4 separate regions of the Homo sapiens genome follow, and regions 2, 3 and 4 are each reported to be linked to region 1. The links are microRNA targets in miRTarBase. Many come from high-throughput screens and were not tested one by one. Region 1 holds a microRNA gene; each other region holds the end of a gene's coding sequence.

Region 1 (3,093 bases):
CCAGGGAGGGAGGGAGGGAGGGCGCTCATCCCCTGCGGGCGGGGGCGGGGCGCGCTCTGAGACCGTTGGGCGCCCTGAGATCTGGCCCACGTGGCCTCGGGGTTATAAGCCCTGCCCTCCCTGAAGGGAACCCCACTTCGGAGCCTGGAGCACAGGGCGAGCTCTCCTCCGCCCTGCAGCCTCAGGTAAGGATCCGGACCTTCACTGCTGCCCCAACTGGGGCTCCTCAGCTCGGGGCCTCTAGGGGCTTGGGCTGCTGGTCTGGGTGGAGGCGCGTTGGGGGTGTCGAGGAGCTTGGGTGCAAGCCCCATGCGGGAAGCTCAGGGCAAAGCGCCTTGAAACCCTCTCTAGTGAAGGAAGGTAAAATGGCTCCGGGACCCCAGGCGGGGAAAGAGGTGTCCAAGGAGGAGGGCTGGAGAGTAAGGCGGGGATGGCAGAGGGTACGCAGAGGCTGAGAAGTGGGACCAGTGTCTCAAGGGGCGCCAGCCTCTTCCTCCGCCCAACATGGCCACCATTTTTGTTGGGATAGCCTTGGGCTCCTGCCAGGGGAACAGCAGGGCAGTGAGGGAGTCAGGACTTTGGGCTGGTGGGGAGGCCGAGAATCAAGGCTCTGGGGAGTCAGGACTTTGGGGCTGGTGGAGTGGCTGGGGACTGAGGCCCTGGGGGGTCAGGACCTTGGGCTGCTATGGAGGCTGGGACTGAGGCTCTGGGGGAGTCAGGACCTTGAGCTGGTGGGGAGGCTGGGAATTGAGGCCCTGGTGTGTTCAAGACCTTGGGCTGGTGGGGAGGCCAGGGCCTGAGGCCCTGGGGGGTCAGGACCCTGGGCTGTTGGGGAGGCTGGGGACTTAGGCCCTGGGGGGTCAGGATCTTGGGCTGGTGGGGAGGCTGAAGGGTGGGGACTGAGGCTCTGGGCAGTCAGGACCTCACGGTTGGGGTGGACTGGAGACCAAGACCTTGGCAGGGGAGCTGTGGCTGCCTCATTTGGACGCTGGAGGGTGGCTAGCGTGGCTGGAAGCGGCCAGCCAGGGGTTCACAGAACTGAAGGTGAGGCCTCCAGAGGCCCTAGTCTCTACCTGAGTGTCTCTGAAACTGGGGGGATGGGGTGGAGCCTTTAGGGGGAAGGGAAGAGGGAACTGAAGAGGAAGTGGGGGAGGGAGGTAGAGGAGGCAAGTCTGGCGCCATGCTGAGTCACCGCCCACAAGGCCCAGGGCGGGCCCTCGGGGGGCCCTGGCAGGGTTGGGGGGATCTTAGGAAGCCACAAGGAGGGCTGGGGGGCTCTTGGAGCAGGAGTCAGGAGGCCTGGGCAGCCTGAAGAGTACACGCCGACGGACAGACAGACAGTGCAGTCACCCATAAAGTAGAAAGCACTACTAACAGCACTGGAGGGTGTAGTGTTTCCTACTTTATGGATGAGTGTACTGTGGGCTTCGGAGATCACGCCACTGCTGCCGCCCGCTGCCCGCCACCATCTTCCTCGGCGCTCGGGGACCTCGTGTGACAGGTGAGCACCTTACGGCCCCTCCCTACCCTGCCCAGATGCCTGAAAGGCCTCCATGGCTTTCCTGCCCTTCCTGGTTCCGGACAGCTGGGGAAAGGCCACAGCAGCTCCTCTGCTGCCCTGCAGTCTTTGGGGGCGGGGAGGGCTGGACATGTGGAACCCTGATGCAGCCGCAGCGTCAAGGACGAGGAAGGGGTGGGAAGGGATGGTACGTGGAGGGGAATGGGTGGTGGGACCAGGGACCCAATGCTAATAAAGACTGGACTGTGCTTCTCTTTTGTCTGAGACTCTGTTGCTGGGGTGGGGAGCTGAATGCGGGCGGCAGGCACATGGACAGTATGGGCGCACAGAAGGGCTGGGAGGGAGAACCTCTGTCGCTCCTCCAGAAGATACGGGTTTGGCCCTGCCTATGAGATCAGAAGAGGGCTCTGGGCCTGGCCAGGCCACAGCCGGAGGAGAGAAGGGCCTGGGCCATCTGCAGAAAGGGGCAGGGATGTAAGGCATCCTCTCACCTTCTACCCTAGCTCTGGCCCTATCCTGCCCCCCTACATACCCAAACTGAAAGCTGCCTACATCCAGTTTTAATCTAAGAAAGTCTAGGGGGTCCTAGGTCATATAAAAATTGGGCAAAATCCACTGTGGCACATACACAGCATCTTAGACAAGGGCACAGACACTCATATACAAAGCACACACTGAGATGCAAATGCATTTACACACAGAGGCCCCATTCAGTGTGCCAGTAACACACACACAGACACATGTGACATGACTGGCATGACACACACAGGGATTACACACACCCAGGGCACATACATATTCAGTAGTACACACATGCAATGATAGAAACATAGGGCGTGTCTTACACATAGAAGAGCACACACATACAGTGACATTTGCATAATAAACACGGTGGCTCCATACACATACATAGATAGAGACATGTTCATATATCATGATAAATATAGAATACATAGATACATGGTGATATATATATATAAATCAAACCATGTCATTATGCATATTTACATGACGATATGAGCATGTCATATATTGTGTAATCAATTACTACATTGTGCCATATAGTAGCATCCATATCTATATATATCATGATGTGTTGTAATTTATAAACTCATGCAATGATAGCCTCCCATGCACATAACAGCACACACATAGACACAGTGGCAAACAAACATAGATGCAATGACACAGAAACATACATACAGATACACCCAATGTGTTTTTGTTACGTTTTATTATGTGACTCATAGACACATAATAGCACACACATATATACACACAATGGCCCCTTCACATATACAGAAATAGATAATGTCTATTCTATAGATGCATACTATACACACGCATGCGCATAATGGCATGCATATATACTCTGACCTAAACAGCAACACATCATGCAGTGGCGTGCGTGTTGACCTACACACTGCTTTAGGGAAGTGAAGATGTCCACTCCTCCCCATGCACCCCCTACCTCCAGTTCCATTGGCTCTTGCCTGGGTGGAGCCCACAGTCAGGGGCTCTAGGGTTCAGTATCACCGCTGCTATTCTGTGGGGGTGCCACACGAGGGCCCCCG
Region 2 (3,093 bases), not on the chromosome of region 1:
TTACACATATAAATTGAGGTTTCTAATGTACACACTTAGACTCAGCAACTGTTGAACCAGCCCTTTCAACCATGAGATAGTGGGATTTAACATAACCATCTATGTGAATTGATAGTGTTAGCATTCTTGGATAGTGATAGCTCCTCAGAGTAAGTTGACTTCTGATGAAGAGATAGTCCAGGGATAGAAATTGGATTGCTCAGTAAGACCCAGGCCTTTCCGGGGTGAAGCTGCTGGTTCTAAACAATCCCTTGGACCTGCAGAGTCCTGAGCAAATGGCACAAAGGTTGCTTTTTAGTGGAAATTCACAAGGGCCTGTGGGGTGCCTGGAGGTGATCTTTGAATGCCTACATGTCGTGAGCCCTGCAGACATTCGCCACCCCATCTGCATTGTGGCTGCAGCACTGGGGGGGGTCACCAGGTTTAGGGGAGGAGTGTATGTAGTCATGGCCACACCCAGAGGCTGGCTTTTGTGCTTTGGGTTTCTTTGTTGACTGAAAAAGCGAGAAAGGTGAGCTATTGGGAAATTAAAAGTCCTGTGCACTCTGTGTCTTGTTTATCAGCTTTGCCTCGGAATGGAAAAGAATTTGGATAGAACATGAGTGTTGTGTGACGGCCCCAAGATCTTTATTATTTTTTTGTATCAGAAAGCGCCAATGCCCAGGCTTATGTATGTCCCAGCAGAAGCCACCGCTTGAACTAGAGGTGAACTTTGTCATCAAGCTGTCCTGTGAGCAGGTCTGGATCACACTCTGGCTCAGTTTTCTCATCTGTAAAATGAGACATCCCCTCATTGTGTGGCCTGGCCTTGTCTCAGGGAGCGCCCGCCGAGTGCTGCTGGGTTGGGCAGTTTTTCTGCCCAGTGGCTCTGATGGGGGCTCAGAGCCCTGGCCTCCCCTGGGAGGACACGCTGTGCAGCCAGGACAGCTGCCGGGAGTGTGCCCAGGTCACTGCTATGGCCTTCGCAGGGTGACTGGCAGGTATCAAATCAGCCCATGAAGGAAGATGGTGATTTTCCTTTTTTGTAGCTAAATTGGGCAGGCTCTTGGGAAGTAGAAAGTTCTGGTGTTTTTGCTGGTGAAGGTTTTGACTGTGGAGCTCTTCTAACACCCATATCAGTGTCTGTTTCTCTGCATGTGGCTGCTGCCCTGTTGGTGGAGCTCTGGGGGCAGAGACCAGGCCGCCGTCCAGTGGCGCCCCGTGCGCACCAGCTGCCTGCTGTTTACACCCAGGTGCGCCGAGTCTCTTTCATACAGCACAGCAAATGATAATAGCTAGTGACAATGTGTTTCCTGTGCACTCGTGAAAATGCAGGGAGGACAACTGCATGCTTAGATCTGTTTCTTTTTTCAGACATTCAAATGTTCTAATATCTGAAGCTAACATTTTGTAGGATATAGGATGCTGATTATGTGAACAATTAGTCATTGGTTTTCTGTACTGCTATGAATATGTCTGATTTCAAGTTTTGGTCAAATATCTAAAATGCAAGGTGAAAGTGCCTTTGTCTCTATGCTTCTAAAATCGCTCATGCTTAGTTGTGGTATGGATGTCTTCCGCAGTGTATCATCAATAAAATTTCACTGTTTTCACAGAAATGTTGCTTTTTACATTTTTTAAACAGTACTTTCCCTGAATGCCAAACACAGAATAAAACTTTACTCACCACACTTTCTGGTTTGACTAAAACGCCCGTGAAGGCTGCTAGGGAGCCAGCGATGCTGACTGGCAATGCAGGCGACCCTCGTGATGAGCACACCGGCTGTGGAGGGTTCTGGATGGAGGCTCAGCTCTTGCCATTCATCCTGGCAGATAGATAGATACATGGCACGCACATCACAGGTTCAGCACAGGGCGCCAGTACTTTACTTTTAGGGTAGGGGAGAGTGGGTGAGAAACATTTGTACTTTAATATTTTTGTATATTTATTTACTTTTTGAGTTGGGGTCTCTGTCATCCAGGCTGGAGTGCAGTGGCATGATGATGGCTCACTACACCCTGGACTCCAGGCTCAGGTGATCCTCCCACCTCAGCCTCTTGAGTAGCTGGGGCTACAGGTGTGCAACACGATGCCTGGCTAATTTTTTTATGTTTTTTATAGATTAGATACATGATTTTGCCATGTTGCCCAGGCTGGTCTTGAACTCCTGGACTCAAGCGATCTATCCGCCTTGGCCTCCCAAAGTGCTGAGATTATAGGCGTGAGCCACCACACCTGGCCAGTAATTTACTGTTGTTTTAAAATCTATAGCAATCAATCAATCAATCAAAGCAAAAATGTCATCCATTTTATATAAGAGACCTTATTGACATTGAGTTTAAAGAACACCTTTCATTTAAGTGTGATGTGCCCCTTGTTAAATAGCTGCCACTGTAATGGAGGCTTTTATTCAGCCCTTCCCTAAGCATCTGCCTCTTGTTTGTTAGGTGACATCTCACCTGACAACAACTTTAGCAAACAAACACTTGCCACTTCCCCTTTCTAGAACCCCCACTCAGAGAACTAAGAATATCTAAAAATAACAATATTTTAAACATCTGAGTATATTTTATTCGTAAGAAAAAAAGGAAGAAATAACCACAAATATTGCTTAAGAAAATAAATTCAGCTGACTTGGCTACAAGAGACGGAGCTTGTTACTCAGGGTCTTCCTCCGGTGGGACCACTTCCATTAGCATCTGAAGGTGCATGGTAATCGGCTCTGAAATAAGAGTCAAAAATGAGTACAGTTAGTTAGACTGAAATTCGAAAGTTTCACTGGAGTTGTTGTGGGTGAGGGTGACATTGTTTTCAGTCTTTGGTGATGCGTCACCTAGACCCTGTGCTCAGGATGGCCAGCTTTCCTGCCTTCTGGTTGGATTTCACACTTTCCTGGCTTCTGTCTTCTCCCAGAATTGCAGGAATAGAAATAAAAACCTCCTAGGAGTGTCCGGAGGGACGACTGCACTTTCCAGTTCAGATGAGCTGAACAGGAGAAACAGGCAGGCTTTTAATCACATTCACTTAATAAATCTTAACTGGCTGTTACAGGCTGCCGCAGCCAGAGTTAAATTGCACACAGCCCAAGTCCTGTCCTCAAGGAGCTCCTGGAA
Region 3 (3,093 bases), not on the chromosome of region 1:
GAAGTCACTGGTGTGTGGGATACACAGGCATGTGTTTGTGTTTGTAAAATATTCTTTTTTATTTTTATTTAATCAGCTGTCAAAGCTCGAAAAACAGCAGCAGAGGAAAGAAAAGACCAGAGCTAAGGGACCTTCTGAATCAAGCAAGGAAAGAAACACTCCCCGAAAAGAAGACCGCAGTGCCAGCAGCGGGGCTGAGGGCGACGTGTCCTCTGAACGGGAGCCGTAGCTCAGGAGGCAGAATTCAGGTAGGAGTTTCCCTGCTTGGCTTCATCTTCCCACATTTTGGGGAAGCAGCAATGAATAGGAGGGAATAGCTGCTGAGGCTGAATTCATTCATTTCACAGCGTTCATCCATAGCTTCCTTAAATCTGCTGCCTTCCAGGATGGAGACAAAAGTTAGTGTGTTAGTCCGTTTTCACGCTGCTGATAAAGACATACCTGAGACTGAGTAATTTATAAAGATAAAGAAGTTTAATGGACTCGCAGTTCCACGTGGCTGGGGAGGCCTCACAATCATGGTTGAAGGCAAAAGGCATTTCTTACATGGCGGCAGGCAAGAGAGTATAAGGGTCAAGCACTCCAGCCTGGTGACAGAGCAAGACTCCATCTCAAAAAAAAAAAACAAAAAACAAGTGAAAGGGGTTTCCCCTTATAAAACCATCAGCTCTTGTGAGACTTGTTCACTACCAAGAGAACAGTATGGGGGAAACTGCCCCCATGATTCAGTTACCTCCCACCAGGCCCCTCATCTTGAATTGTAGTTCCCATAATTTCCACGTGTGTGTTCCTACGTGGGAATTATGGGAGCTACAATTCAAGATGAGATTTGGGTGGGGACACAGCCAAACCATATCAGTTAGCAAATAAGATTGTATTTTATTCATTGAGATGCAGGAGGGTGGCATACCACAGGCCTGGGGTGCCCACCTGGGGGTGGAACCTGTTTGTGCCACCTTCTCTGGCTGCCTGTGCCAGTCCACAGCTGCTGCTGTGATTGCCTGTGCAGAACACTCACTCACCGATACAGAATCCAGATGCAGATGCAGAGTCCACTTGCGCTCCTGCATCTCCCTTCCTGCTCTTAGCCACTCTAGCAAAGGGCACTGCCATCTCAGCAGCCTACTTTCATTGCCACCTGCCCCGTGTTCTGAAATCCTTCACAGTGCCCCGTGTGGCACTGTGAGTTTACTTTTCCTAAAATGGCATTTTATTCTTATTGTGGCTCACTGTAGCACGGAGTCCACCTCCCTGCCTGAACATCAGAGGCCTTGAAAATGTGATGCGGCCATCTGATGGCACTGTGCCTAGTTCCTCCCACCAGGGAACCTGTTTATTTTGCCAAGCACTGGACCAAATACTGGGTGCAGATTTGAGGGACCCAGGACCTGTCATGGGGAGGTCACAGGCTCAGGGAGAAGCATAGGAACAGTTATACTACAGCACGGTGCGTGTGGCAGGAGTGTGAACAGGTGTGGGGTGGAGATGGGAGGTCAGGAGAGGCCCCTCAGAGGCCTGGGACCAGATCTGGAAGGACAGGTGGCAGTGGGGAGGCAGATGAGGGGCAAGGGCAGGGGAGAGCTGCCTGAGCCAAGAGAAGAGCAGTGCAAATGCCATCTGGAGGTTGGGGGGCAAGGACAGGAGAGTTTGGGAATGGAGGAATTGCAGAAGGGTGGGAGTGTTGAGTGCCAAGTGGAGTGGGAGGGCAGGGAGCATCTCTGAACTTAGAGAAATAGGAGGTCTGGATTGTATAGGGTCTGGTATGCAACCCTGAGGAATTTGGATTTTATCCTGGGGCGGGAGGGACCTCTGAAAGGTTTTAAGTGTACAAGTGACATCATCAGATACAAAGTTTAAAAAGAGCACTCACTTGAGCAGCTTTGGGGAGTGAGGCTGGAAGCAGATAGGCCCATTAGGAGGTGATTGCAGAAGTCCAGAGAAAAAATTATAGTAGGAACAGAGGGGAAAGAGTGGGATTGAAAGATGTAAAGGAAATAGAATCATTTCAACGTGGTGACTGATTAGATTGGAAGAGGAGACATCCAGAAGGATGAGGGAGGAAGATGGGGGTTGCTGACGGTACCTATTTTGGGTGTGTTGTGTTTGAGGTGCCTGTTGGCAGCCAATGGTGATGCCAGTCGTCTGCTGAGTCTGTGGCTTTAGAGCTGGGGAGCCAGGTCTCGGACATACAATTTGGAGCCTTCAGCTCACAGACTGTGGTTAAAACCAAGTTAGGAGACAGAATTCACCCAAGAGACACCAAATTATGATAGAAGAACATCCAGAAGGTGGTTTTCAGCCTTCTCTTTCTCTTCTGAAAGAGAGCAAGGGTCAGAAGTGTACCTATGAAATGGCTTTTAGGATCCACAATACCAGGAAGTGAGATATATTAGGCCAGGTGTGGTGGCTTACACCTGTAATCCTAGCACTTTGGGAGGTTGAAGTGAGAGAATCACTCGAACCCAAGAGTTTGAGACCAGCCTGGGCAACATGGTGAGACCCCCGTCTCTTAAAAAAAAAAATTAGCTGAGCATGGTGGTGCTTGCCTATCATCCTAGCTACTCAGAAAGCTGAGGTGGGAGGATTGCTTGAGTTTGGGAGTTGGAGGCTGCAGTGAGCCATGATTGCAGCACTGCACTCCAGCCTGGGTGACAGAGTGAGACCCTGACTCTTAAAAATAAAATTTAAAAAAGATACATTAGTTGTAATTGGGCACAGTGGCACCAGCTCCCAAATGGATACACAGACGAGAGGAACAGAATGGAGAGCTCAGGAAGGGTGGATTGTTGGTTCATAGACAGTTTTAGGGGAGGGGACTGGACAGTGAGTCCTGTTGTCCTCTTAACTGTTCCCTCATCACTGTGTTTTCCTGCTAGTGTTGTGCAGGGAGACAACAGCACTGTGGTGACCAGCCTTGGCTTATGTATCTCACGTATGCATGGGACACTGAAGGGTGCCTCGAAGGGAAGGGACGTCACATAAAACTTCCACTCCCACCCCTCCAAAACTTCATGATAATTCACTTTTGTTAGTGGTCAGTTTTGGCATCACAAATATTGCTGGTGCTTCTGATTTATAGTCTGTCCAGAAATC
Region 4 (3,093 bases), not on the chromosome of region 1:
GTATTTCTGCTAGTGGGACATAAATGTGATTTAGCTTCACAACGTCAAGTTACAAGGGAAGAAGCTGAAAAACTGTCAGCAGACTGTGGAATGAAGTATATAGAAACCTCAGCAAAGGATGCTACAAATGTTGAAGAATCCTTCACAATCTTGACGAGAGACATATATGAACTTATTAAAAAGGGAGAAATTTGTATTCAGGATGGCTGGGAAGGGGTTAAAAGTGGTTTTGTTCCAAATACTGTGCATTCTTCTGAGGAAGCAGTAAAGCCCAGGAAAGAATGCTTCTGCTGACTTCAAACATGCTGAAGAACTAACAGGAACAGATTGGGTGTCAGTTCAGGATAAATACCAACATTAACAGCAGAATGATGCAATGAAAGAATTTAAAAAGGTTACAAACCCACACCAATACTATTTTATAAGGTATTTGATTCAGAGCATGATGCTTACTTGTTACACTACTAGATTGGGTATTTTGCTAAATTACCAAGCAAAGCAGACAATCTTTTTCTTGAAATTACCTCCATTCTTACTTTGTTAGCATACGCTGACCTTAGTGTCCAGATATGTCACTATTACTCATTTTTCTTGACAGTTCAAATGGATTTTTGTGCATATATAGTCAATTGAAAAGATTTTATCAGGAATTACATTCTCTTGAGTTAATTAATATTGAATAGCAAAATGCATTTAAATATGCACTGTTCACCTGCAGAGTAAACAATCTCAGAAGTATCGACTAGGACGTAAATAGCAGTTCCTTATATAAAGTACCAGGTTTTTTCCCCATTCTCTGGAAATGTTTGTCCTCCCTTAATTTTGCCTCAACACAAGAAAATAAGTTTTATGTCCATTTTTGTTCCCTAATTTATTGCTTCTAAAAATGCATTATGTTTTACAAAGATATCTAAGGATCCAAGCAAACTACTTTAAGCAAATATTTGTAAAATTAAAAACGGAGGACCGCTCACCAAATGTTTGAAATGTTGCTTTTTTTTTTTGAGACAGGGTCTTGTTTTGTCACCCAGGCTGGAGTGCAGTGGGGCAATCTTGGCTCCCTGCAACCTCTGCTTCCTGGGTTCAGGTGATTGTCAGTACCTTACCTCAGCCTCCTGAGTAGCTGGAACTGCAGATGTGCGCCACCATGCCCGGCTAATTTTTGTATTATAAGTAGACACAGGGTTTCATAATGTTCCCCAGGCTGGTCTCCAACTCCTCGCCTCAAGCAATTCGCCCCCCTCGGCCTCCAAAGTGCTGGAATTATAGGCATGAGCTGCCGTGCCTGGACTATCAGCAGCACATGTTTTGCTGTTACGGTGTACTGTTCGTATTTAGACAAGAAGAACAAAATTTATTTATGTATTGACATTTTCAAAGAAAGTAAATGCAATTTACTTTGAACTATTGTCAAAATTATTAATATAGGTAAACATGGAATGTTTTTAATAATAGCATTTTTGTCCAAGTAAATTTCCAAATTTCCTAATTTCCAATATGAAAAGAATGCAGAAAAGATTTTTCTGGGGAAGAAAAATTGGTTAGATGCTTGATATATTTAGCCTTCAAATTGCATTTTACAATCTCATCAGTACAAGTTAAGATAGAATAATCAATTAAGACAGTAAAATGACTTTTGAGTTTCCTAATTTTTAACTTATTGATTAAACTCTCCTGGAAGGGATATTTTGATCATAGTGTCAAATATTTTATAATGTACATTTCTATTCTGTTCTGTAAACTACTCTTAATCACAAAAGAGTACCAAGTGAAGTTTTTTGGAATCATAAGGTTTTTACTCTTAACCTTTAGTTGCTTCATTTGTTTGAAAACCAAAGTGGCATAGTAGAAAGAATATTTAATAAGAAATCAGAAAACTTGGTTACCAATATCTAACCATGAGTAAGTCACTTGACCTCTCTAAGCACCATTTTTCTTATCTGTAAAATTAGGCTAATAACCCCATTTATTAGTGTGTTTCATGGAAAATTATTTTGAGAATCTAGTGAATGATGCAACAAACACTTTGTAAATAGAGTAAGCATTTTGAGATTGATATGCTGCTCATGGGCATACTATTATATTTACAATGGGTGAGAATTTTGTTTTCTCATGATTTTTCCTTTCGTTCCTATGCAGAGGGAGTAGAAAAAGATGTGTGTCTTCATGGACCCGTAGGAATTCTTGATTGATGCATATCCTCTGCTTATTTTTTTTGGCGGGGGTGGGGGGCGAGGGGGCCGAGGTCTTGTTCTGTTGACCAGGGTGGAGCGCAGTGGCATGATCACAGCTCACTGCATCCTGGACCTCCCAGTCTCAAGCGAGCCTCCCACTTTAGCCTTCTGCTAGCTGGGACCACAGGTGCACGCCACCACGCCTGGCTAATTTTTTATTTTCTATAGAGAAGGGGTCTCCCTATGTTGCCCAGGGTATAGGTCTCATACGCCAGGGCACAAGTCTCATATGCCAGGGCACAAGCAATCCTTCTGCCTCGGAGTCCCAAAGTCCTGGAATTACAGGCATGAGCCCCTGCGCCCGCTTCCTCTGCTTTTTTTACCCTGAGCTATTGTTCCTGCAAAGTGGAAATAATAGAGAGGGACGTTCCTGCAGACTTAACCCAATCAAAAGTCACGTTTGTGCTTTTTGTGCATCTTTGAAGTAAATATTTAATTGTATTTTCAAATACTTGTACATTTTCTGGGTTCATGTATTTTTAATTGTGCTTATGGAGAGATTATAAATTATAACTATATAAGGTATGACTATTTATATTGTCAGCATTTTCTTGATATCATTAGGTTAATTTCACATGAGTTCAAACCGTAATTAACCAAATGAGAAAATACTTGTCCCCCAAAATGTGAAGTAGTCCATTTTACTGTTACAGTTTTCAATATTATATGACAATTTCCCATCAGTCCAAAATGGCATAAACCCCAACACTGAAAATTTAGCAGTTGAAAGTACAGTCACCTGTGCCTACTTCTAAAGTTAAATAGCTAAAACATAAAATATGATTTAAATTTCAGTGGACACCCTTTATAATACTAATGTCAGGAGAGACTAATATTTGGGCTGAAGGATATCATGTGT

The links. The annotated mature microRNA hsa-miR-142-3p reads UGUAGUGUUUCCUACUUUAUGGA and lies in region 1 at 1,388-1,410, shown strand. An mRNA with a match to its seed (bases 2 to 7 or 8) in the 3' UTR can be bound and repressed. Matches are read on the target gene's strand: a 7mer-m8 pairs with bases 2 to 8, a 7mer-A1 pairs with bases 2 to 7 and ends in A, and an 8mer does both.
Region 2: miRTarBase lists SLC7A9 as a target of hsa-miR-142-3p. The part of its 3' UTR that is shown has no 7-base or 8-base seed match.
Region 3: miRTarBase lists DTD1 as a target of hsa-miR-142-3p. The part of its 3' UTR that is shown has no 7-base or 8-base seed match.
Region 4: miRTarBase lists RAB39A as a target of hsa-miR-142-3p. Seed matches in the 3' UTR shown: 7mer-m8 at 459-465.

Annotation. Positions count from the first base shown.
Region 1 is chr17:58,329,562-58,332,654 of GRCh38, reverse strand. MIR142 (microRNA 142) reads left to right here and starts at 1,337; the gene lies at 1,337-1,423. All of the region lies in intron 2 of TSPOAP1-AS1 (TSPOAP1, SUPT4H1 and RNF43 antisense RNA 1), which reads right to left. MIR142HG (MIR142 host genes) reads left to right here and starts at 135. Exons shown (of 1, transcript NR_186557.1): 1 at 135-1,767. RefSeq lists a silencer at 1-127 and enhancers at 238-307, 1,108-1,247, 3,038-3,093.
Region 2 is chr19:32,827,983-32,831,075 of GRCh38, forward strand. SLC7A9 (solute carrier family 7 member 9) reads right to left here. Exons shown (of 13, transcript NM_014270.5): 13 at 2,529-2,702. The coding sequence ends at 2,638. TDRD12 (tudor domain containing 12) reads left to right here. Exons shown (of 33, transcript NM_001366102.1): 33 at 1-1,598. Among named protein-coding and RNA genes, the nearest start is that of SLC7A9, 40 kb to the right of the region's middle. RefSeq lists an enhancer at 1,053-1,574.
Region 3 is chr20:18,744,024-18,747,116 of GRCh38, forward strand. DTD1 (D-aminoacyl-tRNA deacylase 1) reads left to right here. Exons shown (of 6, transcript NM_080820.6): 5 at 77-248. The coding sequence ends at 229. Among named protein-coding and RNA genes, the nearest start is that of DTD1-AS1, 47 kb to the left of the region's middle.
Region 4 is chr11:107,962,079-107,965,171 of GRCh38, forward strand. RAB39A (RAB39A, member RAS oncogene family) reads left to right here. Exons shown (of 2, transcript NM_017516.3): 2 at 1-1,404. The coding sequence ends at 294. Among named protein-coding and RNA genes, the nearest start is that of RAB39A, 35 kb to the left of the region's middle.